Linked DNA regions of Homo sapiens. The protein of the gene in region 3 interacts with the protein of the main gene of each other region in a biochemical or structural test. Each region holds a gene or a part of one and is shown on either strand. Other genes may lie near its edges.

Region 1 (3,929 bases), on a different chromosome or scaffold from region 3:
CAGAGAATCTCCAACTCCAGCCGACCCCCATCCATCCATCCATTCATTCATCACCCTAAATGTCCCCTGAGCTGGAACAGCATCTGCCTTCCTGCCAGGTGCCAGATGTGTCTCAACACAGCGCAGTGCCTTGCCTTGGAGGGCGGTCTGTAAATAATTGAGTGAACATTTATTGAGCACCTACTGTATGCTGAAGGGAAGCAGGTAAGTCACAAACCGGCTTTGCTGAGCTCCGTGCACGCATGTGTGCGTGCATGCGTGTGTGTGCGTGTGTGTGTGTGAAAGGGCATAAAGAGAAGGTCCTAGGAAGATGAGGGCAAGCAGGAGGGCACAAGGACAGAGCAGGGCTGGGCCTGGGCTGAGCGGAAAGCAGGGAATTTGGCCCGGCCTGGGATCTAGGCCCTGGGGAGAGGTGGTGGCTCTGGAGGAGCATGGGTGCCTGGACCTGGGTGGTCCACTGAGCAAGGGACAGGCGGCTACTTCTGAGGGCAGGACAGCAGCATCCTGGAAGTTGTGGCACCTATGTCTTTAGGAACCAAACATCCAGGGAAATCGGAACCTGAGCATCAGAACCTCTATCAGGGCGCCTCCTGGATTTCTACACAGGACAGTAGCTTTCAAGTTTTTTGACCAAAATCCGTAGTAAAAGCAAACATCCTGTTTGTTATTTTAACTTACTTTATATTTATTTTTTAGAGACAGAGTCTTGCTCCAATGCCCAGGCTGGAGTGCAGTGATGCGATCACAGCTCAATTGCAACCTCCTGGGTTCTTGCCATCCTCCCGCCTCGGCCTCCCAACGTGCTGGGATTACAGGCGTGAGCCACTGCACCCGGCTATATATTTAAAGCTGAAGTAAGAGCGTCACAAAATAATATTTACCCTCACTACATGCATAGTATTTTGAAATTTTCTTTTTAATTTCATTTTCGGAAAACAAGTAGTGCAACTCACTAAGTCAATTTCCCAACCCACTAACGGGGCAGGACCTGTGTGCAATTTTAAAGCACTGGCCTGAGTGGGGGTTAGGAGCGGTGAAATGGGATCCGGCGTGTGTCTTGAAGCTGTGACGGGCGGTGCTTGGACTCCGGGCTTTGTGACACACAACCATGTGGGGAATTGTTGGATGTTATGGGGGAATACTGGGAAAAGTCTGTTAGACCCCCCAGCTCACAGGACCGCCACTCTGCAGCCCAAATAACAGGGACTCTTTGGGGTCTGGTTCCAATTTTTTCCCCGGGTCTTTTAATAGAGCCCCCTCCTGCCCTGATAACAGATGCCATTCAGCAGTTGCTTACACATCTCCCAGGACAGGGCGCTCACCCACTTCTCAGGCAGCCCACTTGACTGTGAGGAGTAAGCTCTGCCGGGCTGCTGATGTAGCTGCTAAGTGGGGCCCCGCCCGTGGCTGGCTGGCCATTCTCCTCTGTCCTCTAGCCTGTTGTCTCAGGGAGCCGGGACAGCTCTGGCAAGTGGTCCTCTCTCTGCCCCACCCAGTTCTCTCTCTCTGCTGCCCAGCCACTGCCGGGTGTCTGTTGGGGGCAGCCTTGGAGCCCAGCCAGAGAGAGGCCCTTTCCAAGGTCAGGTGGGCTCAGGATCTGAAGCCTCATGGCGGGGCTGGCACTCAGCCAGCCTTGCCCACCAAAGCAGTTCTGGGGGCCTGGGTGAGGGAGGGCCGGGGGAGGCTCAGCTGTCCAGAGAAGTGGTACCCCAAGGCAGTGGCTGGTGATGGGGGTCTGGAAATCAGGCCCAGCAGTGCCCTTGAGTGGTTGGGTCACAAAGTAGTTCATATCAACGAGCTATGATACATTCATTCACTCACAGGCTCACAGGATCTTCCCAGTCACCCTCAGAAACAGATGCAAAGGGCCAGGCACGGTGGCTCATACCTATAATCCCACCACTTTGGGAGGCTGAGGTGGATGGATCACATGAGGGTCAGGAGTTCGAGACCAGCCTGGCCAACATAGTGAAACCCCATCTCTACTAAAAATACAAAAATTAACCGAGCATGGTGGTGCGCACCTGTAGTCCTAGCTACTTGGGAGGCTGAGGCCAGAGAATTGCTTGAACTGGGAGGCGGAGGTTGCAGTAAGCTGAGATCGCGCCACTGCTCTCCAGCTTGGGCAACAGAGCGAGACTCCATCTCAAAAAAAAAAAAAAAAGAAACAGAGGCAAACGCCCACCCTTACGGGGCAGGGGGTAAAGGCTCAGAGAGGTGAAAAACCTGCCCCAGATTCCGCAGCTGCTAAGGGGTGGAGCTGGACATGAACCCAGATCTTCTGTTTCCCAGTCACGGGCCTCGCCTGGGACAACTGAGGCTGGAGGAGCCTTGGGGTAGGGGAGGGGGAGGTGGGCCACTCCTCCTGTCTTGCTGAGAGCAGGCTGGGTTTCTCTGCCCCAGAGGGCAGGGCGAAGGAAAGAGGGAGTCAGGGATCAATTAGCAGAACCTTCCAGACACGAGTGGGCTTCCCCGGAGATGGGGAGCTCCCCGTGAGGAACAGTGAGGAGGGACTTGAGGCCCATTTCTCAGGATAACTGCAGAAGGGTATCCATGGGCACGAGGTTTGAAGGATGCCCAAAGCCCCTCTGCCTGCTCCATTTCACCCCCAGCCAGGGCCTCTCCAGCCTGTGCCCACCACCTCCCCTGTATGGCCCCAAGGAGCCCCTAATTGCGGACCCCATCCCATTTGTCTCCCAGGCTGAGTGGTACCTTCACACTCACAGGGCAGAGGGTCCTGGGCTTCTCAGGCCTATGAGGAGAGGGGAGGCTCCTGGGGGAGTCTAGGGTGGGGGCTGGGAGAGGAGCTGCAGGGGGTTGGGGGAAGCTTCACTGAGGTGTCCCAGGGGCCAACTCTGCCACCAACTTGAAGATGGGCACACCCCTCCCCTAGGCCTGAATCTCCCCATCAGTAAAATGGGGTCAGCTCCCCACAGCACATGCACCCTCTCCTGTGGCCCAGCTAAAGAACCCTCCCGTCCGGGTGCAGTGGCTCACCCCTGTAATCCCAGCACTTTGGGAGGCTGAGGCAGGCGGATCACAAGGTCAGGAGTTCAAGACCAGCCTGACCAACATGGTGAAACTTCGTCTCTACTAAAAATACAAAAATTAGCCAGACGTGGTGGCACACGCCTGTAGTCCCAGCTACTCGGGAGGCTGAGGCGGAAGAATCACTTGAATCTGGGAGGGGGAGGTTGCAGTGAGCCGAGATTGCACCACTGCACTCCAGCCTGAGAGACACAGTGAGACTCTCAAAAAAAAAAAAAAAGAAAAGAAAAGAAAAGAAAAAAGTAGCCGGGCATGGTGGCGCATGCCTGTAGTCCCAGCTACTTGGAAGGCTGAGGCAGGAGAATCGCTTGAACCCGGGAGGCAGAGGTTGCACTGAGCTGAGATTGTGCCATTGCATTCCAGCCTGGGTGACAAGAGCGAAACTCCGTCTTAAAAAAAAAAAAAAAAAAAAGGAACCCTCCCATCCCTGCAGCCCGGGTCGCTGGTGTGTGAGCTTCTCCCAGGACAGGCAAAACAGGAAAAGGCTGAGCACGCCCCACCATCCCCATGGGTGGCCCCCGATACACAGAGGGGCAAAGAGAGGCCCCCAGATGGACAGTGGCCTAGTCAAGGTCATGCGGAGCCAGTGAGGGGCTGAGCTGGGATTCGATCCCAGGCCCCTGACGCAGGCCACCCTTCCTACTGCTGTGACCAGGGAGTGCTGCCCTTCCCCTCGCTCCGATCTGGGGATTTTCTGGGGAGAAGGAGCTTAAAGAGACCCAGACCCTGCTCGCCTCCCACAGACCCCACAGCTCTGGGGAGTGTCAGTGAGAGAGGAGGGGCCGGCAGCCCTGGGAGCCATCAGGACACAGAGGAGTCAGGAGCAGCTCCGGGTTGAGAGGCTCTGCCACCATTGCTGAGTGACCCTGGGCAAACCCTGG
Region 2 (3,929 bases), on a different chromosome or scaffold from region 3:
CTGCCGTTTTGGGGTAGTCTGACACACAGTAACAGACACCCCGTTCACACCAGTATCAGCATTCACGACTGCTCACCGCGGGCCTCACTGCAACCCACCCCATGACCCCAGGACGGCCCCCACCAAGTTCCCAGAGGCGCGCGCGGGCCAGCTGCCTGCCGCGGGTCCCTCACCTGCACGGGAGGCACTGTGTGGCCTCCCTGACACGCGTGGGCACGAGGAAGAGGCCCCCCGGCCCAGCCCGTGAGCTTCTCCGTGAGCCGCAGGTGGGCAGAGAGAGCGGCCCCGCTCCGGTGGCCGAGCACTCACCTTGGGGTCGCCTTCGAAGATGACCTGGCCCATGAAGTCGGTGTAGAACACGGCCTCGGCGATGACAGAGAACCAGGTGAGGAGGTGGCAGAGGCACAGCCGCATCAGCTCCCTGGGCATCTTCAGCATGGAGAGCCACAGCAGGCGCACCGTGGTCTCGCCCTCCCCCTCCTCACTCTCGGTGTCCCCGCTGGAGGTGGTGGCCCCGCTCTGGTTCCGGTGCCGGTGCTGCCGCTGCCGCTTCTGCATGTCGTACAGGTCGCTCATGCTGCGCGACGGCTTGATCAGCACCACGGCGTTGGCGCGCCGGTAGCGGTAGCAGTGGGACCCAAGCTTGCCGTAGTAGGAGAAGGTGCTGGAGGCCTGCCTGCGGAACGCGTGCCGCCGCCGCCGCATGGAGCTCGACGTGGCCGAGGGCTTCGTGTCCACCCTGGTGTAGCCGCCGAGGGCGTCTTTTGTGGGGGAGCCACTTCCGTTTGGGACTTTAGCTTCATTCAAGTGATTATCCAGCAAGGTCTCGTCCTCCTTGGCGGCTTCCTTGAGGAAGGTGGCCAGGCGGGGCAGCTTGGTCTTGGCGAGCTCCTGGCTGGTGCTGCGGGGGGTGGCGGGGTAGGAGGCGTCGTGGAAGATGGAGGGCTCGATGTCGTGCAGGAACAGCAGCTCGGGCTCCAGGTCCAGCGCGGTGTCCGGCACGTGCAATGCCGAGTCGCTTTTGCTGCGCATGATGTCCACGTCCGGGTAGTCCAGGGCCAGCTCGTGCTCCGACTGTACCTCGTCTGGGAAGGCAGGGACGCCGTGCGGCTCGCCCCCATCCAGGGCGCCGGGCTCCTCAGCGCTGCGCTCCTGCTGCGGGCTGTACTGCTCCTCGTCGATGCTGAACAGGTGCAGGGCCACGGACACCGTGAAGATGATGGCGGCAAAGAAGAAGAGCACCTGGTTCTGGGTCCGGAACCAGCTGCCCAGGAAGGTCTGGGTCCAGTCCAGCCCACCCAGCACGTAGCCGATGGCTCCGCCGAGGCCTGCGTGGGAGGAAGCAGCAGCCGGTGAGCCGGTGGCACCAGGCCACAGGGGGGGAAGCTCTGGGAGGGCCTCTCCCTCTAACAGGGGGCCGGGGCTGCCCTCATGATGGGAGTCAGGGGCTGGAGAAGGAGAAAGCAGTAGGAAAACAAAACAAGAAACTGCAGCTGCTGCTGGGTCTGAGAATTCTGACCCGACAGAACTGCCCCTTGATCAATGAAGGGCAGACTACCCCAGGACGGATGCAAGTGTGCGCCTCTCTGCACTGAAGGGCATTCCCTCTGCATACGGAGCTGGCCACGTTCACCCTGGATGGGAGTACTGCCCTGCTGGAGGGCAAGGTCAGTGCAGGGCTGGGAGGTTCACTGTGCCAGCATGCATGTCACCCTCTGCAGGCCTGGCCTCCTGCCCCTTGAAGCTCCTCAGTGCCTTGGCCCCACTGTGCTTGGTGGTCAGGAGGGGCTGCCCCTGGTTACCTTCCAGCCCTAAGACCCTGCCCACTGCCTCAACCCTCCATGCAGCCTGATGAGGCAGCGCTGACAACACAGGCTCCTGTCCCCTCCCCACACCAGGCCCGGGCACGTTGGAACCCGGCCACCCAGCCTTGGTGCGGCAGCGTTACCGGCAGAGAAGGCGTGGATGTTGAGGGCCATGTCCTGCTCCTCGCTGTCCACCACGTCCAGCAGATAGGCACGGATGGGCCCCTCGGTGGCATCGGCGCTGAAGTCCAGGACCACCACTCCCAGCACCGTGAGCACGATGCCAATGGGCTGCCGGTTGGGGACATCGCCGAGGGCCAGACCTGCGCAGAGCACACGGGAGGGCGGTCAGGTCCTCAAGCACTGGCCAGGGTGGGCCTGATAGCAAACAGCCACATGGAAGGGGCATGCGGAGGGGGCACGGCCACAAAACCATGCCAGCCTTCCAGCACAAGAGAGAGGCTCTTAGGCACAGAGGCAGCGGAAAGGAGTTGGGCTTTGTTCCACGCACTTCTGAGGGTTCCAGGGTTTTTCTCCCCGTTCGGTTAGCTGTTTATCAGACCTCCAAGGGTTTACGCGCCCTTGATGTTTTTCAAACAGAAAGGGGAAGAATAGACCTTTCTACCCCGGCCATCAGAGGACGGCTGCTGTGCTGGAAGCATGAATTCACTGTCGCTAAGAAGGCCGCACATGGTAGTGCAGACGCCCACAGGGAAAGGCGCTCATGCCACAGACAACCCGCAGGGGACACTGATGAGGCTTCGCGAGGCAGGCGCAGGGGGTCTCGCTGGGCCTGCTCTAGGTCTGAAAGGAAACGACACCCCAAACTTTAGGGGCTTTGCACACAAGTTCTCGGGGCAGCCTGGGTTCAGGAGACGTGGCTCTAGAGAGAAAGATGCCAGTGGCCGCACCTCACCTACGAGTCCTCCTGCAGTGGGCTGCCGGCACTCAAAAGCAGTCCCACCCATGTCCCTCCTGCCTCAGGGGAGTCTGCCCCTGAATCCAGATCAATGTTGATGGCTGAGGCTCACCTTGGGTCTCCACTTCCCACCAGGGAGACAAGCAGTGCCCTCCTGACAAGATTAGAGGAATTGCGGGCCAGAGCCCGGGACCCAGGCCTGAACACAGACACACCTGTCCGTGGGAGGCGCGGGAGAAGGGCTTTCTGCCCAGGTGGTCCTTGCTGGCCTCCTCAGACCACGGGCAGGCGACGGCTCCGAGGCAGAGGGGCTGGGGCTCCCAAGCTGGCTGCCATCTGGGTCACATTTGGGCAGGACCACCCCCAAGGACACAGCCCTGGGAAGCCACGTTGTTCCAGCAGGGAGGGGAGGGCTGCTCTCGAGGGACACGGACAGGCAGGGGGCCGGCAGCTCCGCGCCCAGCAGGCGCCAGGGCAGCCGCACCCCCACACGCAGTCAGAGGCATCGCCTGTTGGCGACGAAGCCCACCCCATGGCCAGTGCCCACTCAGGCTCTGAGAAGCGTCCCGGGGCCTCTCCTCCTGCCGCTTAACTCCCTCAGCTCCCTCCGCATCAGTGCAGGCCCGGGGCAAGTTCCTCTAGTTCAGAACACAGATTAAGCTCCTCTGTCTCAAAAAGTTCTTGCCAGAAAAATGTTTTAACAGTTTTGATGGGTGCCCTCAAGGCAAAAACTATTTTCCCACACAGAGTTGCTTTAATTCAAAAGAAAACAACAACCAAGAAGGCAAAACACAAACATCAAACCAGGTTCTGGACATTTTAACACCAAGTCGAAGAAAAGGAGAACAAAAAAAGACAAGATAATTTCTGAAAGAATGCTGGAAACAGGACGTGGTGTCAGATACGCATTAAAAACAAACCATCACAACAGGAAGCGTTTCCCTGTGAACAGGTTCCTCCGGCTTTCCCACATGGGGCCAGCTTCGGCGCTGCCAGGGGTGGTCACCGCCAGGGTGGCCCCGGCAGCCCAGCCAGGCCCACAGAGGGTCAGCCTGAATATTCAACACCATTCAGCTTTTAATGAGAGGAGCTACCCAGGGCCAGGACCCCGTCTGTGTTGTGAGGACACCAGGTGTGGCCGAGAAACTTACCGATGGCAGAGCCGTTAAGGAAAAGTGCAACGCCAAAGAGGACGCCAACGCAGA
Region 3 (3,929 bases):
AACTATTCACATGTGAAGCTTCTGAGTTACTGCTTTGTTGTTTTCTTTGCTCCAATGTAGAATTCAGAAGGATGCAAAAGGAAAAACAATTATTAAAGACGAGGATGGCATTTATTCGTTCTTATAAAAATAATTTATTTAGTAGCTGCAGTCTCTGTTCTCTCTGGCTTTCCCTGGAAAAAGACACCACTCCAGACTGTCCAGGGCTCCCCTGGTACCTGTGAATGTGCTGTTAGTTCCTGGTCTGGTTAGAAGATGATGTCTCTGTGGAGATACATACTTGGCCTCTTTCTTTCTCCCTGGGGTGAGGGACATTTTATGTATAGGAGATGGAAGAATAGACGGTCTCTTTCTCAAGCTCATTCCTGGTTATTTTCAGTACTTAGCTCTTTGCAAAAACTGCGTAATAAGTGTCTTAGTGAGAGTGTGCCTTGTTTATGTGCTGAAAACCTAGATTCACACATATGTTTCCAGATATTTTAGCTACCAGCATAGACCCTCAAACAAGACTGCCAGCTCCGGAGATGATCAAGTACAGCCTTTGTGTGGTGCAGGAATTCCCCTAGCATACCCAGCCTCCCTCTGCTTGGACCTACCAACCCCCACCACCTTCCTATTCCATCCTCAGTTGGCTCTGGTTATTACAAAGTTCTTCATTATTCCAAGCCAAAAATCTTCCTCTCGGCAATGGTTGCCCCATTGGCCCGATCCTGTCCTTTGAAGCCCCACACACAAAAAATCCATTTCTTCTTCCCTATGACAGCTAGTTAGGCCACTTGGACCTTCAAAGACAGGGATCAGGCCCCCACATCTTCACTTCTTTAGGCAGAATGCCCACTTTATCTGGCCCCCTGAAAAGCTAAGAATGGGACACCGCTGTGCAGGTGGGGGTCTGATCAGCCCAGACAGGAGCAAGCCCACTGCAGCCTCACTTCGGAATCTATATTTGCGTTAGCACAGCCTGAGGCCAGTTAGGTCCCGGTGGGTCCCCCTTCTGAGCTGTGCACTGGGCCACTACGGAACTGCATGCACTTTGGCGTCAGAGAGACCCGAGTGTCCTGGCCCAGTGGTTGACGTGGGGTCGGGTGAGTGAGCCCCCTCTCTGGGACTCAGATCCCTCATCTGTCTGACTACTTCTTAGGTGCTGTATTTTTTCCTGTAAATGCTGTAACAAATCACCTCAATCTTGGCTTAAAACAGCAGAACTGTGTCCTTGAACAGTTCTGGAGGCCAGAAGTACAAAATCGAGATGTTGGTAGTGCTGCTGTCCCACTGGAGTCTCTAAGGGGAATCCTTCCTTTGTCACTTCCAGCTTCTGGTGCCCACTGGCATTTCTTGACTTGTGGCTGCATCACTCCAGTCTCTGCCTCCCTGGTCACGTTGCCTCCTCCTGTCTGTTTCAAATCTTTGTTTCACTCTTATAAGGACACTTGTCCTGAGATTTAGGGTCCATCTGGATAATCCAAGGATAAGCACGTCATCTAAAGATCATTAATTTAATTATAGGTGTAAAAATCCTTTTTCCAAATAAGATCACATTTACAGGTTCCTGGGATTGGGACTTGGAATTATTTATTTATTTATTTATTTTTGAGACTGGGTTTGGCTCTGTCACCCAGGCTGGAGTGCAGTGGCATGATCAAGCTCACTGCAGTGCTGATCTCCTGGGCTCAAGTGATCCTCCCACCTCAGCCTTCTAAATTGCTGGGACTATAGGCGCACACCAACTGGCTAATTTTTAAATTTTATTTTTAGTAGAGATGAGGCCTTGCTATGTTGCTCAGACTGATCTCAAACTCCTGAGCTTAAGCAGTCCTCCTGTCCCAGCCTCCCAAAGTGCTGGGATGACGGGTGTGAGCTACTACATCCAGCCAAGACTTGGATATCTTTTTAGGGTGGCCGCCATTCAGCCATTGGCTCTCTACTTTCTCTACTTTTGCAACTCCCTTTTGTTTCTATTGTATTTGAACCCAGCTCTCCAGGGTCACTGGCCTCAGATCCTCAGGCCACATGTCTTCTGTCTCCTCCTTCCTTCAGCATCCTGGCTGCTGCTCTGAAGGGTGCCGGGGCTGTTCCTATCACTCCTGTTGTACAGATGTGGGTGGGGCCCTCAGGGATTAGGCTGCCTAGGAGAAAGCTCAGGTCTTTCTGGTGCATACCCTCATTTCCACCAGCATGCTATGGCGAGTCCAGTGGAGGTTTTGTCAGTGGGAAGGAGAAGCTGTGGCTATTAAAATATTCATTGCCGGTTCTCAGACGTAGGGAAGATCCCACAGTGAATGTGCTCTGGACAAAGAAGGGACACATAGTGGAAGACTTATGTCTTCACATTTTCCCACTAATTTAGACTGAGATTGGCTCACTGAATTTGAGGGAAATTATATTCTCAGTGCCCAAATACTCTGTAAAAAATCAGGAAATGCTCCTTGACAACCCTGTAAGGGCATAGTAGTATCATCTTCTTGCCCTACAACTAGCCTGTTTCAGAAGTTCCATGGTCCTTTAAGTGTGATCTCCAGTCTGCTGCTGGCTTCTGGGCTCTCCAAATGCAACTCCCACTAAAATGTGCTTTTCTCCACAAAGAGAGTGCGCTGCTTTGTTTGCAGTTGACTTTTCAAGCACTAAAAAAAAAAAAAAAAAAACAAAACTGAGGGGCAAGCAGAAGAGCTGCGTCTGGTGAAGCTAGTAGTGGAGCTGAGAGAAAGCAGGGGGAGGGTAGTGGCCTGGGAAGTTCTGGACACTGAGCAGCTCCAGACTCTCCACTCATTGCTGCCCCCAGGATTCCTGTCCGACGGCATCCTCCTAGATGGCTGCTGCACTCATTTCAATGTGCTTTGCTAAGAAAGGCCTGTGTGGGGATAGGGGCTGGGGAGGAGAGGCGGGGAGGGAGGAGAGAGATGAATCAGACAGTCCCTGCCCCACCTGCGGCTGGAAGTAAGTCAGTGCTGGGCAGGGTGCTGTGCTTTGCAGAGACCCTTGGGAGCCTAGCAAGGGCTGGCCATGCCTTGCAGGGAGATCTAGGAGGGCTTCTGGGAGGGACTGGCATTTGAACCGAGCCCTAGTGGGTGACTAGGAGATAAAGAAGAGAAAGATGGATAGAACAGTGTATCCAAAGTTGACCTCAGGTGGCCCCCTTCCTGGTCATCATCCGATGGAGCTGCACTGGAAGAAGCTCAGGTCTTACAGGGACCTTAAGGACCATCTAGTAAGGAAGATATTCAGACTGCACTGCTTAGAGACCTCCGCTTCTCATTTCTCTTAAAGAACAGTGATTTTAAAGTAGGTTTAAACAATGGGTTTAAAGAACAGTGATTTTCCATTTTGACAAGGCTTGTTTGGTATAGCCACTTCAAAATATCCCCACATCAAAATATGATGCTTTATCTGGGATATCTTTTCCAGACTTTGGGAGCCTTCCCTCCTGCACTTTCATTTCTGCAAGGCAATACTCCCCAGACAGTGTGGTCATGGGGTGTTGCTGTGTAACCTTCCCCACTTGACTGTGAGCTTCCTGGGCAGGGACCGAGCCTTGCTGCTCATTCAGTACGGAGCCCAGAAGGAGGCCTGGGGGGTACAGTGTTGACCGATGAAATGAATGAATGCATGGCTATGACTACTTCCTTAGCTGCATCTGGCTCCCAGCTGCCTTCATTGGTCTCTACAGTCATCAGTAGTATCCTGGCTAAGTCAAGAGCATATGTGGGCCTCTGTGTTTCTCCATCTTATATTCTCTCCTGGAGTTGGTTTGCTATATCAGCCAAGTTAGTAGAGACTTGGAGGGGTGGTGCCCCCTCTCTGCACTTTCAGAGGATAGGGAGGCGGTGGACCTAATGTCCAGCCCCTGGAACTGCTGCCTGTTGTTCTGTGACATGGCCAGACTGACCTGGGAACTTGCTAATTCGGTCCAGCTGGCTCTTCTTGGTGCCTTG
Region 4 (4,726 bases), on a different chromosome or scaffold from region 3:
AAGTCAGAAAGGGCCTGTTTCAAGCCTTTCACATACCCCTTTACATATTCACTATGTAAGGTAGAAAGTTACTTTCTTAGTGCCTATAAGCATCCAAGTTGAAATCTATAACTAAGGATTACAATGCTTACTTCATAGGATCATTGTGAGAAGTCAGATGTGTAGCAAACAGCCTGACTCTTAAGGAGAGGTTATTATAACTACTTCTACAGGACAACATTCATCATAACTGAGGTTCAGTGGCTTACTGGCAGGGGAGGAGACCTGGAAGCCTCAGTCATCTTTCACTAACCTCTGGTTACCTGTCCAAGATCTCTCTCCTCACCTAAAGCTGGCATTCTCCTTTGAATGCTTTCCTCTTTCCTCACCATAATCTGTAAAGCTAGTATAGACTTTCATTGCTAATCATGGTATGAATAAGCCTTAACAGAACTATGGCCTTTTGCTTTTTTTCAATACCTATATAATCTACAATTGAGATGCTGGAGGAGTTTTCTTGCTGTGCAGGGGAAAGCTCTGCTACATTAAAAAATAATAACGATACAGTACCTATACAGAATGAAGAACTGTTGACTGGGATAATTCTAGCATTTCTGTATTTACTGTATGGAAGAGTTCTTTAAGGAGAAAAGTTAACCAAATGGATGGCTGTCAAAAGAACCATGCTTATAAATATTATAGTTTAAAAAAGTTTATTGAAGTCCCCCATTTATTCTCAGAGGATTACTATAAGCTCCACAACAACAGAGATCTTGTCTATTCTTCATTGATACATCGCAAGTACCTTGAATAGTGCCAGTATATAGTGAATGCTCAGTAAACTTTTGTTGAAAGAGTGATGAAAATACCTCATTAAACTCCTGTCCTTCATTAGAAACTTGTAAACAAAGAAAATAAAAACAATCACACTGATTTATCAACAAAAAATAATGTTTCTAGAATTTTGTTTATGAAGGCAGCCTCTGACATGTAGTCCTGGGTTTGATTTGAACTGTGTGGCCCTTTGCAAATCACTTAATTTCCCTGTGCCTCACTTTTCCTTTCTGTAAAATGGATATATGCTACCTCATAGTGTTGTCATTATGATTAAATAAGGTACTGCATGAATAAAGAGCCTACAAATTTCCTGGCATAAAGTAAGCACCCATTAAATGTTGGGTGTTTTCATTAAAGCTTGAAATTTCACTGAGGAAGGCACTGAGACCCTCAAAGTAAATGATAGCTAGACGTCCCACAGCCAGTTGGCAAAGCTAGAACTAAACAGTCACGTTTCTGTCCAATCTATGAAAAAGCTTATTCTACTACATCAGGCTGCCTGCTTATGTCTTTATATATACTACCTAATACGTGTGTGTGTGTATGCTTTCTAATATATACTTATATATGTAAGTGTATCCATAATATATGCTTTCCAATATGTATTCTATATATACATACTAGAAAACAACGAAGATGAGTGTGGTTCACTCTCTCTGGCAAAGACTTGAAAAATGCATGATTCTGAGATGCCTGCTGAAAATGTGAAAACCTTGAACCATGCCAAATGAAGCAGTTAATATAACTGCCCTAACCTCAAGTTTAGCACACTGATCCAGTTGGAAATTTTGCTCTGGAGCATTTACAAAAGCACAGATCCGGGGAAACGGGAATCAAATGCAGTAATTCTGCAAGTGTATTCAGGATGAATGTAATATTGAGTGTCACCGGGCACCTCACTACCCCCCGCCTCCACCCCCGCCGTCTCACCTCCCTCCCTTAGATCCTGCCACTCCCCTCTGCTGGTGCTGGAAGCACTGGGCGAGTGGCTCTCAGAGCTAGAGCGGGCGGGGCGGACACGCTTAGCGTAAGCGCAGGGGCCAGGAGCCCGGAGGGAGGTGGAGGCGGGGCAAGGCAAGGCAGCAGGCGCTGGGTAGAGCTCAGCTGGAACACAGTTTCCCTCCTGGACCGGTCGAGTCAGACCTCACGTGTAGACTAAGAGGATCAAAAGAAGAGTACGTTACCTGCGGCGCCGGTTGTGCGCAGACCAGATGTGCCGGGAGCTGCAGGTGAGTCACTTGCTCTTCCCTCCCACCCCCACCTCCTCACCCCGAGTCCAACAGGTTGGCTGGAGCGCAGCTTCCAGGGGCCCCGTGGGTACACTTCTAGTCTCACCTGGGCGCTGGCCTCGGCTTCTCCCTTTACCGAGGGAGGCCGTCGTTACTATTTAAATTCCTGCCCCAGCCCACGCTTGTTCTATTCCTTGTCTTTTTGCCTTTCCTTCTAAAATGAGAGCTCCGCTGTGCTCAGAACACCTGCTCTCCGGGAAACTTGTAGGGACAGAAATGGTTAAAAGGAAGGGTGCCTCAAAAAAGTGCCTCAACACGAGGTGGACCCTCGACAGGGTGGGAGCTGACAGTGACACTCCTAGTTCTTAGTGACCCACTGGGTCTTCAATAAAAAGTCATCATTAATTATTCTTGTTTCTCAACCAGGAGGTCAGAACCTAAGGGAGACGGCGGAAGAAAATGGAGCGTCAGTGATCATCAGACTAGAATGAGAGTGAATTGGGAGAAAATGGTGCGGCCCCCTCACCCAGAGAACCCTCCCCCACCTGCTCACACCCCCAGCGAACACCCCGGGGGAGGCCTATGAAGCAGCAGTAAAAGAAAAGGGAGGAATATAAATTCTCAAGTTGGAAGGGACCCGGTTACCACTTCCTTTGCTTTCTGAACTTTTTGTTTTGGTCTCCTGCGGGCAGGAGTGAGTCTCGCCATCCCCCTTGCTTGCTTGCTTGCTTGCGTTCAGCTAAGAGTCATCTTCTCTCCTCTTCCTCCTCCTCCGCCCCACATCTCCCTCCTTCCTCCCTTCCCCAACCCCTCCACCCACCAAGTAGCGAGTCATTCAATCTGTACACCTCCTGGGCTGGGAATCGCAATTGCGAAGTTGGGAGGCGGGGTGACAACGTTTGGGAAGGGCCAGGGCGACCGGCAGTGTGCACAGGGACTGTGTCGGGCTTGGACCTCACCTGATCCTCTCTCTTAGCGCGACCCTTCCTCTGCTCCCTGTCTCCTCTTTCTGCCACTTGTGCGCTGCTTCCGCGCACTCCCGGCTCCCTAGCGGCAGGAGGAGGAAGGCGCACAGCGGGTGGAGAGGGTGCGCCAAGGAGAGGTAACCCCTTCGGGAGCCCGGGGAATCCCGGCCGCCACCAGGGGCCGTGCCACCGCCCTCGCGGGACCAAAGCTTCCGGCGTGTCCCCAACTTTGTGGCGCCCTCAGGCCGCGGCGACTGGGTTAGAGATGCCTTCCAGCGGCAGAGCGCTGCTGGACTCGCCGCTGGACAGCGGCTCCCTGACCTCCCTGGACTCTAGTGTCTTCTGCAGCGAGGGTGAAGGGGAGCCCTTGGCGCTCGGGGACTGCTTCACGGTCAACGTGGGCGGCAGCCGCTTCGTGCTCTCGCAGCAGGCGCTGTCCTGCTTCCCGCACACGCGCCTTGGCAAGCTGGCCGTGGTGGTGGCTTCCTACCGCCGCCCCGGGGCCCTGGCCGCCGTGCCCAGCCCTCTGGAGCTTTGCGACGATGCCAACCCCGTGGACAACGAGTACTTCTTCGACCGCAGCTCGCAGGCGTTCCGATATGTCCTGCACTACTACCGCACCGGCCGCCTGCATGTCATGGAGCAGCTGTGCGCGCTCTCCTTCCTGCAGGAGATCCAGTACTGGGGCATCGATGAGCTCAGCATCGATTCCTGCTGCAGGGACAGGTACCCCGGAGGCACGCGGCGGCTGGGCGGGGAGGCGGGCGCGGCAGAGAAAGAGAGGAAGGCACAGGTAGATTTGAGGCTTTACACAAGCTTCGCTGGAGCCAGGCCTAGCAATAAGGTGTGGCCACTTCTGGGCTGACAGGTGGGGTGGGGGTGGGGGACTGGAAAGCATCAACGCCAACTTTTGAATAGAACTTTTTGAATCTCTTTGTTCCCTTTTTTGAGTATGCTAATTTAACGTATAAGGCAAGGGACTTCAGGCCCACAATAAATATTTGGTGACTGAATAAATGAATCAGAAACGCCATGCTCCAAAAATGCATGCATAGGGATAAAAGATTTGGCACGCAGCATTATCATTTATCAAACCTAGAACACTGACTTTGAAAAACTTGAATGGAGAATTGTTTTAAATATAGAAGATAAAAGGTTGGTCCCTTGATTGAATGATTGTGGAACTCTGAGGTTACCTTGCTATTACTACCATTTCTTCATGAATACATTTCCTTTACACACACACAAAAAAGTTCCACCTGCCAAACATCTGTTCTTACCAGAAAATGGGTAATAAAATGTATTAATCCAAAGTAGCTTTACTATGTATACACTTCTACTAAGAAAGTGTCATTTTAAAAATTATAATCCAGGCCGGTCGTGGTGGCTCACGCCTGTAATCCCAGCACTTTGGGAGGCCGAGGCGGGTGGATCACTTGAGGCCAAGAGTTCGAGACCCCCCCTGGACAACATGGTGAAACCCTGTCTCTACTAAAAATACAAAAATTACCCGGGGGTGCTGGTGGTGCGTACCTGTAATCCCAGCTACTCAGGAGGCTGGGGCAGAAGAATCGCTTGAACCTGGGAAGCGGAGGCTACAGTAAGCCGAGATCACTCCGCTGCACTCCAGCCTGGGCGACAGAGCAAGACTCCGTCTCAAAAAAAAAAAAAAAAGGAAAAATAATCATAATTCTAAGGGAGAAATTCTGAATACTG
Region 5 (3,929 bases), on a different chromosome or scaffold from region 3:
GCGGGGGCGGGACGGGGAGGGCGCTGGACCCGCGGTCCCCTCCTGAGCCCTGCAGCCCGGCCTTCTCGCCACACTCCGCCCCCTCGTCCCCGAGCGCCCCCAGGCTTCTTTCTCACGCTTCGAACCTCCGCCCCAGCACTCCGATGCGGCCCCCTCCGCTGGGACTAGGCCTCTCCACTCACGGCCTCCAAACTCCCGCTCCGGAGTCCTTGTAAGGGGGCCTGGTTCCCCGCCACCCCGCCCCACACACACACCCACCCCCAGTCCTGCAGATGCCCCAAGGAAACCCCACTCGCCTCAAGGTCGGTGGAGGCGGGGGCGGGGAGGGTGTCTGGAAGTGGATGCCTGCCTCACCTCCTCCCTAGAGGACACTGGCACCTTCCAACCCCACTCTCAGGAAGGCCCTCTGTTGTCTAACTTAATTCCCTGTTCTGCATCATAAACCTCTTGTTTTGCCCCCACCGGATGATAATGCGTCTGAGCAATGCTTTTCAAATGACAGAAAAGGATCTCCAAGGACAGCAGGCAGCCCTGCTTGCTCAGCTTCTTCCTGTGCCCTTAGCTTCTGATGACAAAGTGAAGTGCTTATATCCCCCAGCCCTAAAATCACACCCCGTGGTCCAGTAACCCCATCGTGATTCGGCCATTGTCGCTAACAATAGTACTAGCTGATATTAACTGAGCATCTACTATGTGCCAGGCACATTTCATCCTCACGGCCTGTCCTATGAGTCACGTACTATTATAGGTCCACATTGTAGGTGAGACAACTGAGCCTAGAGAGGTTATGTAACTTGCCTAAGAGACCCAGATCTACCCACCAGGGCTCCAATTAGTGCTGGGAAGTTATTTCAATTAGCCTTTATTTTTGGCCAGCTCCTAGGATTTGTGGCCAACCAGGATTTGTTCTAGAGCCATGGTTTTCAAACTTGAGAGCGCATCAGAATCCCCTGGAGAACAGTTACGGCTGGCTCCGCCCAGCCCCTGGAGTTCTGATTCAGGTCTGGAGTGGAGCCTGAGCTTTTACATTTCGAGAAAGTTCCCAGGGAATGCTGTGCGCAGGGACCACACTTTGAGAACCACGGTGCGAGAGGATTTGTGCATACTAACTACGACTTTTATTAGAATGCTCAAAGGCAGGTATAATGTTCCCATTTTATATATGATGAAACTGAGGCTCAGAGAGTTGACTTGCCCAGGGCCACAGAGTAAATGGTGAATTTGAGACTGAGCAGTTACTATAGGATAGGAGAGGTATTTTATATACACTGTCTCATTTAACCCTCATCATAATCCTATAAGTTACTATTTTTATTCCCAATAAACAAATGAGGAAACAGGCTTAAAAAGATTACCTTGCTCATGGCCACACACCCAGTGAGTGGAATAAGCAGCGTTCAGATATTAGCCCCTTTCCACCACTCTGTGACCAACCACACTCTCCAAGAAAAACACTGCTATCAGGGCTTAGCACTCCATAGAACTCCTGCCTTTCTGTTTACCTCTGCCCTCCTCCGCCCCATCTCCCCCAGAGGTCTAGGGACAGAAGCCAGACACAAGATCCCACTCTCCAGTCTGCAGCCAGCACTAGAACCTTTTGGTGGGAGATACCAACTCTGCTTCCCACCCTCCACAGCCCCCACAAACAGGAAGTGAATGCAGAGCAGTGGACAGGGAAGCTGTCAGACAAGGCAGCTTCCTGATAGCTAATGGCCTCCCTCAGGGCACCAAGGAGTGTGGCAGCTCCTCCTCATCAGCATACCGGTCCAGGAATCAGGGTCCTGGAGGAGATGGGGGAACTCAAATCCGTGCCCAAATCTCCCCACCTCAACCCTAGCCAGAAAGAGATATTCAAGAGCACAAAAGATGCGTGCGAAAAGGAAATCTTATTGATTGCTTTAAATAGAAGCAAAAACGAGCAAAAGATGGGTCCAGAAGAGAGGGGAACACTGTATCTTTAAGGTCTGGCTCATGACACAGTACACGTTTCTGCCTGGTTTGTGTGCACCTATGTGGATGACTTAAGTCCAATACACTCAGGACTCTGCAAGTGAAGCATTGCCATTTCCTCAGTAGCTGGGAGGGGAAAATGAAAACCGGCAGAAATGGTTTCACAGAGTCCAGAGCCCTGCCCGAGTGAAAGCATCAGAGAGGGTGGGCAAGCCTGGCTTCTTCAGTGCACAGCCCTCCCAGTCGGGAGTCATGCAGTCCTGCCAGTTATGTCTGGGAGGGTCATGCACAAGAAAGCCGAGGGGCCTGCCTCCCATTGAACTCAGTGTCTCCTATGAGGCTGCTCTGGGGGAGAGGGGGGAACCAGGGGCAGGTGTTGGTCCACAAAGGCCGCCGGAGGGCTGCTTCAGGATGACCAAGTCCAGAGAGGACTGGTGAGCATGCGCAAGGCAGGCCCCACTCTGCCAGCTGACCTTGAGAAAGTCAGAGGTGCCACATCCGGTGTGCATATCCCCAAGCCAGGGCAGGGATGCCTCTTTCCTACTTCTCAAGCTTGGTGTGAAGCCAGAACAGGAGATTATAAAACACAAGAGGGGCCGCCGTGAGTGGGCACCCTGCAGGTAGAGGAGGGTGGTATTTGAAAGGGGAGCAGGGGACAAGGGTGTCCCTCATCACAGGTAACCAGGGCACCCCTAGCTTCCCTGAATAACCAGTGTCAGCCAAGAATGTCTCCAGGCCATTCCCACATTGATCTGTATTTTCACCCTCTACCACTTCTTGGCTTATTTCCATGTGGCCATTTCCCCGGAGTAAAGAAAGCCTTGCTTTGCTGTTTTCTAAAGTTAATTCTAGAATGTTAAAGTGTACGTGTGTGTGTGTGTGAGAGTGGGGGGCCTCTTTCCGGCATTGTGGAATTGAGGAACAACTCTTCCCAGTCCTGATCCTGTGGAATTCCATCCTGAACCCCAAAATCTTGCTTTTCCTCACTAAAAAGCCACTCTCAGAGCAGCCATTTTCTTTGCCTTCTCTGAAGTCCTGGCCCCCTGCCATCCTCATCTGGGGTTTTGTCTGAGGACTGACTCAGGATCACTTTTGTTAAAGTGGAAAAGTATTCAGCACATGCAAATCATATTATTAAATATTCACACCAGCAGGAATCTTATGGCAGCTACCATATATCCCAAGGCAAATGTGGAGGCAGAAAACTTTCCACCACCTTTTCCCACATCCAGGGATCACTCACAGCCACCCCAGGATGCGGGGAGGAAAGAGGGGCAGGCTGGTACCCACTCTAAATATAGCTCTGAGGGCTTGCTGGCATGGCAAGTGGACACACGGCTGACTTTAATAGGGAGGCTGATACACTCTGGCCCAGGGAGAGTTAGAAAGGCTCAAAGTTAGAGCTGGGGGGCAGAAAGTGGGCTGAGGCCAGCAGGACAGGACCCCTCCTGGGGTGCAGGCCCTGGGGGCTTTGGGAGGCAGGGATGGGCCAGGTAAGGCCCCTGGGCCCAGAGACAAAGGAAAGATTTCAGCTTTCTCTCCCTAGGCAACCTACCTGCTTCCTGCCCATCCCCAGGAGCTTTGCTGGTATGAAAGCATGCCCCTGAGACAGCATGGGATGCTCAGTGAAACCAGCTTTGCAAACAAGTCCCAGCAGCATGCCTGTCCCTCCTCTTACAGGCCAGAGAGCAGGTTGTGTTGGCACGGCCCACCCCTGGCTTATGCAGAGATCCCTACACCTCCTTGAGGACTGGCAGCAGGGCAAGGTGGTCTGCTGTGCCCAGTCTCCCTCTCATGCTGATCCCACCAGAAGGGGGCCAGTCATAAGAGCTTTGGAACTCCAGCCTTCTCTCTCAGGTGCCCCCACAGGCTTGCACCTCCAGCAGGTTCAGAAGGAGAACTAAGCATGTTTTCCAGATTCAAACCCAGGATTCCAGATTCAAACTCCCTCCACTTCTCCCCTTTCCTCTCTTCTCCAC
Region 6 (3,929 bases), on a different chromosome or scaffold from region 3:
TTCACAAATCTACATAGTGGAAATTCTTGCACATTAAATAGATAACTAGAAGAGGACTTATAAAACATTTCCATCACATCAAGTTTCTTTTTTTCTTTTTTTTTTTTTTTAAGTGATGGGGGTCTCCCTATTTGGTCCAGGCTGGTCTCAAACTCCTGGGCTCAAGCAATCCTCCCGACTCTACCTCCCAAAGTACTGGGATGACAGGCATTAGCCACCACGTCCAGCCCACATCAAGTTTCTCAAACCTATAGTACAATATATCCATTTGTCTTTTGGATTATTTGAGAAGCACAAAATGCCATCATCCAGATTAGATTGTGAAATAATTTGCACAATACCCAATTTTATAAGAACATGGCAACTTAAACCATAAAACTATTTTAGTGAAAGCAATCCAAAATTGAGTTTTTTGCATTTAGATATCTTTCTACTTCAAACCAGGGAAGATATGGAAGGCTTACAATATTTTAACACATTTAATTACTTACAGTCAATTAAAATTAGATAAAATAGTAGGACAATCTTTAAGTCCAATAACCTTTCGTTTTAGTAATCTAATCACATCAACTAGACAGAAAAACAAGTGCCTACCATATGGTCTTTCTGTAACAGAAAATAGCTGCATTGAATAACAGCATCTGTGCATCTTATCAACGCTAGCATTGCCCATACTTAAATCAGCATATTGTTAACTATAATAAGAAGACAGGACCCTTCACAAAGCAAAGAACAAAAGAAACTGAATATTACCTTTGTGCTAGATTACTTGACCTGGTAGTAACTAAAGAAATGAAGAACATCAAGGCACAATGAACTTCATAAAACGCTTAACCTGGAAGAAATGAATGGGAAGGAACACTAACAATTTACGGAGAAATTCTTTAGATCTGGGTACTCACTTTGCTGATGGCTCTTATCTAGTGATAGGCCCCACTCAATACATTAAAATCCAGGCTTCTGCCGAAATGCCACTTAATGATCCCTGCTGCTGCTACTGCCATCATTCTCAATTCTAACAGGTTTTAGCTTTAACCCTAACTTGCAGCATAAAACTTTTGGCATGGAACAGTATTCTGACACTTAAATTCAGGTGTATGAAGAAACACAAAATTAAAATTAAATAATAGAGTTATACCATACTGTAACTAGTCTAGAATGAATCCTATGCCTCCAATGAAGAAACTTGCTTTTTAAAAATTGTTTTTTGGCCGGGCACGGTGGTTCACGCCTGTAATCCTAGCACTTTGGGAGGCCACAGTAGGCAGATCACAAGGTCAGGAGATCGAGACCATCCTAACACGGTGAAACCCCGTCTCTACTAAAAATACAAAAAATTAGCCAGGCATGGTGGCGGGCGCCTGTAGTCCCAGCTACTCGGGAGGCTGAGGCAGGAGAAAGGCATGAGCCCGCGAGGCAGAGCTTTCAGTGAGCCAAGATCACGCCACTGCACTCCAGCCTGGGCGACAGAGTGAGAGTCCATCTCAAAAAAAAAAAGAAAAGAAAAGAAAAGAAAAAGAAAAAATTGTTTTTTAAGTGTTGCTTTGAGCAGTGTGTATGCTTTTTAGTATTGTTTTAAGCAGTGTAGGTTTGCCACAAACCAAATTTTCACAAGACTGAATACATATTACCTATTTTTAAAGTCTATACATAGTGTTCTTTTATTGTCATTTTGGTAATAAAAAAGAGAAAATGTAAAAATAATATAATCCTGATATTCTCATCATTCAGAATAAACAACTGTTAACATTTCATCACGGTCAATGTTTGTGATCTTTTTTTAACTGGTTATGAAATATTTATGACATGAAAAAATAAAAATACATAATAAGGAACATCCATATACTAGCCATTCGTTTTAAGAAATAAAACATCATCCATACAGATTATCTTTTTATAGCTTCTCTTATCGACCAGTCTGATTGCCCTTTCACTTGTCTGTTAATTATCATGATCTCATCTCTTAGTGGAAATTGTTTCATACATTTGTACTACACATTGTCTTGGTTACTGTTACTTGGTTACCAGCTTCCCAAAGGTAAAAAAGGTGCAAAGAAAAAAGGCACCAAAAATTTTAACAGCAGTTCTAACGGAAATGAAATAGAATTTAAGGTGGGCAGGAGGTCTAAGGAAGAACATATTTCATACTGTACATATTTTATATAAACTAAAATAAGTATTCAGCTGGGCGCAGTGGCTCACACCTGTAATTCCAGCACTTTGGGAGGATGAGGTGGGTGGATCACTTTGAGATCAGGAGTTCGAGACCAGCCTGGGCAACATGGCAAAACCCCATCTCTACTAAACATACAAAAATTAACCAGGCATGCTGGCACACGCCTGTAATCCCAGCTACTCAGGAGGCTGAGGCAGGAGAATCACTTGAGCCTGGGAGGCGGAGGTTGCTGTGAGCGCAGATTGCACCACTGCACTCAAGCCTGCGTGACAATGCAAGGCTCTGTCTCAAAAAGAAATAAAATAAATAAGAATTCACATACTACATGTCCAAATGCAAACTCAGTAACATTTTGGAGTTTTGCTAAGTCTTTATTCATTCCAAAAACATATTTATTGACAACCTATTATGTGCTAGGCACTCTTCTAGGCACAAGAAACACAATGTGAACAAAACAGACAAACTGCACTCTCAACACCTGCGTTCTAGATATATTACCTGTCTCAAATAAACAAACAAAATCAAATGCATAAGCATGCCGGGTGGAGACTAAGTGATAGGGAGATAAAGCAAGGAAGGAAGGCAGAGCATGGCACAGGGAGCAGGGGAGGGGCATTCAACAAAGGGAGTGGTTGGCAAAGCTTCACTCGGAAGGTGACCTCTAAGCAAAAGCCCGAAGGAGCCAAGGAAGCAAGCTGTGCAGAGACTGGGGGAAGTGTTCTAAGGGGAGGGTTCAGTGAGTGGGAAGGCTCTGGGGACTCCCACGTTTGTGTACATGCAGAAAAGCAAGAGACCAGAATGGCTAGCACAGAGTGAGGCGGGAAGAGGCACAGGAGGTGCGCTCAGGGAGGGGGAAGGACCAATTATACAGGGCTTTGCAGGTCACTGCAAGAACTTTGGCCTTCAATCTTCAGAGAAATGAGAAGCCATTTGAGGAATTTGAGCAAAGGAATGACACAACTTGATTTATAAATTGTCTGTCCTGATTGCTGTGTGGAGAACAGGCTTTAGGCTGGCAAGGACTGAAGTGGAGAAATCAGTCAACCAGATCCACATGTCATATATGAGAAAAAAGAGAGACATCAAAGATCACTCCAAGATGCCTGGCCTGGAAGGATGGGATTGCTATTGCTTGAGATGAGGAAGACTGGAAGGAGCATACTTGGGAAGGTGGGCCAGGGGAATGGAGGTAGAGTCAGGATTGTGGTTTTAGATATGCCTATTTACTATTCAAATGGAGATTCTAGGCAGTCAGGTCAGTTGGATATAGGAATCTGATTCTGCGAGACAGAGGAGCAGGTCAGCAATAGAGATATACACATGTACACATAAAGAAATATAAGTGAGTGTGTGTGTGTCAATTATCTGCATATACTTGATATTTAAAACCATGAAACAGTATTGGGAGAAGAAATGAGGATTAACTGAGCTTTGAGGTGTAGAAAGGTTTAGCAAATCAGGATGTCGAGGAAACCTCAAAGAGACAGAAGGAGGTGACAACGAGGAAGGAAGATAATCAAGAGAGTATAATGTCCGGGAATCTAAATGAACACTGAATAAAATGTAAAGCCTTTCCTGCATATTCATTTATTCATTCAAAAAATATCACCTGACACTTACTATGTGTCAGTCCCTGTGGAAACAAACATGGTCCCTGCTCTTATAGGGACTGCAATCCAAGGGGGATATAGATAAACTTGTAACTGGTATTCCTGAAAGTGCAGGGTGTTTTGAGAGAATACACTAGGGGCAA
Region 7 (3,929 bases), on a different chromosome or scaffold from region 3:
TTACAGCCATGCTGGCAAATAGGTATGTAGTGTTCACGGGGCATGGTGCTGGGAGCTTTGCTCACGTTGACTCATTTAATCCTCACAACAACCCTGAGGGAGGTGTTGCTATTATCCTCTTCATTACCAAGGAGGACATGGAGGCACAGAGAGTTGGATAACTTGTGCAAAGACACACAGCCTGTAAGTAGTGGAGTTAGATTTAAACTCATTCTGACTCCAGAATCTGTGTTCTTTCTGTTGTTCCTGAGCTCCAAGAGCCCCAGGATTCCTGGCCAGAAAATAAGCTTCCCCCTGTCCCCACCCATCCTCTCACCTTCCTGAGCTGTAATTAGGCGTAGGAGGTGTGCAGGGGTCTGGGCGGATGGAAGGGAGGATCGGTCCCGTTTGGTTTCTTTCTCAGCACAGCTTGGTTTTAATGCAGCTTTTAGCTGCCTTATGATTACCTCACTCACATCCAGAACTGCCAGGAAGAAGGCGGCATCCCGGCCCCTGTTTCCTGGCCCTGAGAGCCTCCTCTCAGCCCTAGGAGATCCCCTTTGACCCCCAACTCTGTCTCAGCCTCCTGGCATGAACATGGTTCTCCGTAAGACACAGGAACAAAGACTGTGGGTGGAGTGGGGCCGTGGCTGTGCTTCTCCTCAGACATTTCCAGGAAAAGCGTGACACACAGCCCCCTCCATGCCCAACAGTCCCGTTCAACATGGGGGGCCATTCTCACCGGATCTCCTTCCCCACCCTGTTCTCCTTTTCCAGAACTCCCAGGGCCCCCCACCAACCTGGGCATTTCCAACATCGGCCCCCGCTCTGTGACCTTGCAGTTCAGGCCAGGCTACGATGGGAAAACCTCCATCTCCCGCTGGCTGGTGGAAGCCCAGGTAGGGCAGGCCTGGGGCCTGACCAGCAGCCCCCGCCAGGGCACCCCGTGCCCTTGAGTGCAAAATCTTATGTGTATTTCGGCCTGTGTGAATTTTCATGTGCAGCTCTCAATGGCCCATTATACTCCAAATGCTCACACTTGCCAATGTTGTCTCCAACTCCCCCTGCCCCTCACCTGTGTACATGGAAAAACACACACACACTACAGTCCCCTCCTGGGTCGGGGGGTGCCTAGAAAAATACCCAGTTGCTGGAATATAAAAATATCCGCCTTGGCTGTACCCTGGAATCATCAGGGGAGCGTTCAGAAGCGCCAACACCTGTGCCCCTACCCCAGAAACTCTGATTCTGATTTAGCTGATTTGAGGGGCAGCCTGGGTCTCTGGAAGTACCCGGGGTGTTCAAGAGAATCACCTGGGCTGCTTGTTAAAAGCACAGATTCCTGGGCAGCACTCGAGGGATTCTGTAAGTAGTGGAGTTAGATTTAAACTCATTCTGACTCCAGAATCCAGGAATATATTGATCACAAGCATCCTGAGAGATTCTAAGGCAGGAGGGTTGAGTCACACTTGCAGTCATGTTTAGGGGCCTGGAAAGATGGTAGCCCCATATGGTGCCCTCCAGATGAGCCCTGGGTTCTGAACCAACTTCTTCCCTGGCAGGGCTTGTACTGGGGCTCGGAGCACCCCGTGTGGGCCCTGTAGGCTGGACAGGCCTAAGATCCTGCCCTTTTCCAGGTAGGCGTGGTTGGGGAGGGAGAGGAGTGGTTGCTGATCCACCAGCTCTCCAATGAGCCCGATGCCCGCTCCATGGAGGTGCCCGACCTCAACCCCTTCACCTGCTACAGGTAATGAGACTGGCCCGGGGAGAAGGCAGCAGCCTCAGGGCTGGGGGTGGGTGGGGGCTATGGCCCAGACCAGGACAGGGTTGAGAGTTGGGTGAGCTGCCCTTACCATCTTGCTCATCTCTCCCCAACCCCAGCTTCCGCATGCGCCAGGTGAACATCGTGGGCACCAGCCCCCCCAGTCAGCCTTCTAGAAAGATCCAGACCCTGCAGGCACCCCCTGACATGGCCCCAGCCAATGTGTCTCTGCGCACAGCCAGTGAGACCAGCCTGTGGCTGCGCTGGATGGTAAGGCTCCCTCGAGGGCAGGGGTGGGACCTCTCCATGAGCTTCTGGTCATTGCCTCCTAGAAGGTGCACATCAGAATTCCTACAGCTCCTTTCTCCTCTCTTTCTGTTTTCTGATGAGATGCCTGATAATCAACATCTTAGCCCAACGAACAAATGCCCCCCCGCCCGCCGATGAGAGGAAGGAGCTCAAAAATACTGTTTACTGAGCATCGCCAAGTGGCAAGCATTTTAAATTTTCATCCCATTTGATTCTCCCAATAATCTTACAAAGGATACATGATCATCCCAATTTACAGCTAAGAAAACTGAGGCTCAGAGAGGTTAAGAACTTGCCCACAGCCACACAGCTCCCAAGCGGCGGGTCTGGGGTTCAAGTGCCACTGTGGCATTCAGAGAGTGTCCCCAGATCCGGGCTGTGTGTTGAGGGTCCTGACCGTGGGCCATCCTGCACGAGGTAGTGACAGTAACACACCGAGGCTTCCTCTCCTACCAGGCGCTGTTCTGACAACAAGCCTGTGACAGCAGAGTGATCCTGGTCCCCCTTTTGCAGATGAGGAAACCGGGGCAGAAGAGAGGTCAGATCACTCGCCCAAGTTCTCCCGTATCCTCCCACGTGCTTTCATGAACAGCAGGGCTGAGGTCCCAACCCGGGGAATCTTTACCCGCAAGTCCACAGCCCTAACCATCGGGCACACTGCCGTCTCATCCTCTGGAGAACAGGCCACTTCTCCCCACCAGGCCCTCTGGAACATCGTTTCCCAGCACGTGTCCCACAGAGCAGCAATCCCAGGAGGCGTGTGGAGCAAACAAGAATTCTTAGACAAATAAATGTGGGAACAGCACCACATACCACAGCTCCATAGAGAATCCAGGAACACTAGCATAGCAGGAGCCCTCTTGACCCTGCTTCCCCAGGCCCATCTGACCACACAAACCCTTTGTTTCCACGTAAGATCTCACTCATTGTGCAAAACACAACTTGCAAACACACCACACTGTGAAGTCATTATTGCCGTTCCTGTGCGCGGACAGCTTGATGCTAGCGGCCATGAAAGCGCTTGGCGCCGTCAGTCCTCGATAAATATGAGTTATTGATTGCAGTTCCCTTCCCAGAGTGGCTGGTGCCTGAGCAGAGCTGCAGAGCTGTCTCGGCCCACCTCAGTGCCCCGTGCACAGTGTGACTATACCCACCTCCTGCCTCTTTGCTCCCAGGCATCCCCACCCCAGGCTGGCTCCCTGCTTCCTTCCTGAATCTCACTTTAAGGTTTGCAGCTACTAAAAGGTTAGAGCCTGATGCGGAGGGCAGGGACTGCATGGGGGAATAGAAAGGCAGCTGCCATGTGGCACAGGGCCCTAGACACTTCTCAGGCCCACGCTTAATGGTGCGTGGTCCATTACCTTTCCTCAGCAGGTAAAGGAACTTGCACTTAAGCCCCATCTCCGGCTCTCAGGACCATCGATTGCTATCTTAATGGTCTTTGGTCGGCTTCACTAAGTGTCTGCAGGAGGGAGGAAGCGTGTAGTGAGCAGGGGAGGTTGGGGCCGAAGGTGAGGAGTGGGGTAAAGTGGGTCAGCCTAGGGTGAGCCTGTGGACCAAGGGCCCTCCAGAGCCCCTGGGGAAGCAGAACTGGGGGAGGTGAGGGCTGGAGATGCCCCCACCCCAGCTCTGTGCCCTTCAGAGTAGTGGAGGCCAGGCCCTGGGCTCCCCTCCCTGTGTGCACACCTCCACTCTCACCAGCACTGCCCATGGTCATCCACACAACCTTAAGCTGGTGACCACAGCCCCATCAGCCTAGTCCTAAGGCCCCAAAGAAATCTGACTTTTCTTTTCTGTGAGACTCAAACAAGAAGGAGGAGGCTGGTTGGGCGTGGTGGCTTGTAATCCCAGCACTTTGGGAGGCCGAGGCGAGCAGATG

What was found.
Region 1: the proteins of FRMPD1 (region 3) and KCNJ4 interact in a test that uses a peptide from one of them, tested with the Homo sapiens proteins (one large-scale study listed by IntAct).
Region 2: the proteins of FRMPD1 (region 3) and SLC45A4 interact in a test that uses a peptide from one of them, tested with the Homo sapiens proteins (one large-scale study listed by IntAct).
Region 4: the proteins of FRMPD1 (region 3) and KCNV1 interact in a test that uses a peptide from one of them, tested with the Homo sapiens proteins (one large-scale study listed by IntAct).
Region 5: the proteins of FRMPD1 (region 3) and SCN4B interact in a test that uses a peptide from one of them, tested with the Homo sapiens proteins (one large-scale study listed by IntAct).
Region 6: the proteins of FRMPD1 (region 3) and ARHGAP21 interact in a test that uses a peptide from one of them, tested with the Homo sapiens proteins (one large-scale study listed by IntAct).
Region 7: the proteins of FRMPD1 (region 3) and SDK2 interact in a test that uses a peptide from one of them, tested with the Homo sapiens proteins (one large-scale study listed by IntAct).

The regions. Positions count from the first base shown.
Region 1 is NC_000022.11:38,444,807-38,448,735, forward strand, and holds part of KCNJ4 (inward rectifier potassium channel 4), read right to left. Parts: intron 1-3,929. UniProt on the Homo sapiens protein: Inward rectifier potassium channels are characterized by a greater tendency to allow potassium to flow into the cell rather than out of it.
Region 2 is NC_000008.11:141,217,702-141,221,630, forward strand, and holds part of SLC45A4 (solute carrier family 45 member 4), read right to left. Parts: coding exon 3,876-3,929; intron 2,129-3,875; coding exon 1,949-2,128; intron 1,329-1,948; coding exon 310-1,328; intron 1-309. UniProt on the Homo sapiens protein: Proton-associated sucrose transporter. May be able to transport also glucose and fructose.
Region 3 is NC_000009.12:37,657,293-37,661,221, forward strand, and holds part of FRMPD1 (FERM and PDZ domain-containing protein 1), read left to right. Parts: intron 1-3,929. UniProt on the Homo sapiens protein: Stabilizes membrane-bound GPSM1, and thereby promotes its interaction with GNAI1.
Region 4 is NC_000008.11:109,972,938-109,977,663, reverse strand, and holds the start of KCNV1 (potassium voltage-gated channel subfamily V member 1), read left to right. Parts: upstream 1-1,892; 5' UTR 1,893-2,045; intron 2,046-2,471; 5' UTR 2,472-3,275; coding exon 3,276-3,736; intron 3,737-4,726. UniProt on the Homo sapiens protein: Potassium channel subunit that does not form functional channels by itself. Modulates KCNB1 and KCNB2 channel activity by shifting the threshold for inactivation to more negative values and by slowing the rate of inactivation.
Region 5 is NC_000011.10:118,146,067-118,149,995, forward strand, and holds part of SCN4B (sodium channel regulatory subunit beta-4 isoform 1 precursor), read right to left. Parts: intron 1-3,929. UniProt on the Homo sapiens protein: Regulatory subunit of multiple voltage-gated sodium (Nav) channels directly mediating the depolarization of excitable membranes.
Region 6 is NC_000010.11:24,713,544-24,717,472, forward strand, and holds part of ARHGAP21 (rho GTPase-activating protein 21), read right to left. Parts: intron 1-3,929. UniProt on the Homo sapiens protein: Functions as a GTPase-activating protein (GAP) for RHOA and CDC42. Downstream partner of ARF1 which may control Golgi apparatus structure and function. Also required for CTNNA1 recruitment to adherens junctions.
Region 7 is NC_000017.11:73,396,117-73,400,045, reverse strand, and holds part of SDK2 (protein sidekick-2 precursor), read left to right. Parts: intron 1-756; coding exon 757-878; intron 879-1,616; coding exon 1,617-1,726; intron 1,727-1,860; coding exon 1,861-2,011; intron 2,012-2,563; coding exon of another isoform or gene 2,564-2,638; exon of another isoform or gene 2,639-3,003; intron 3,004-3,929.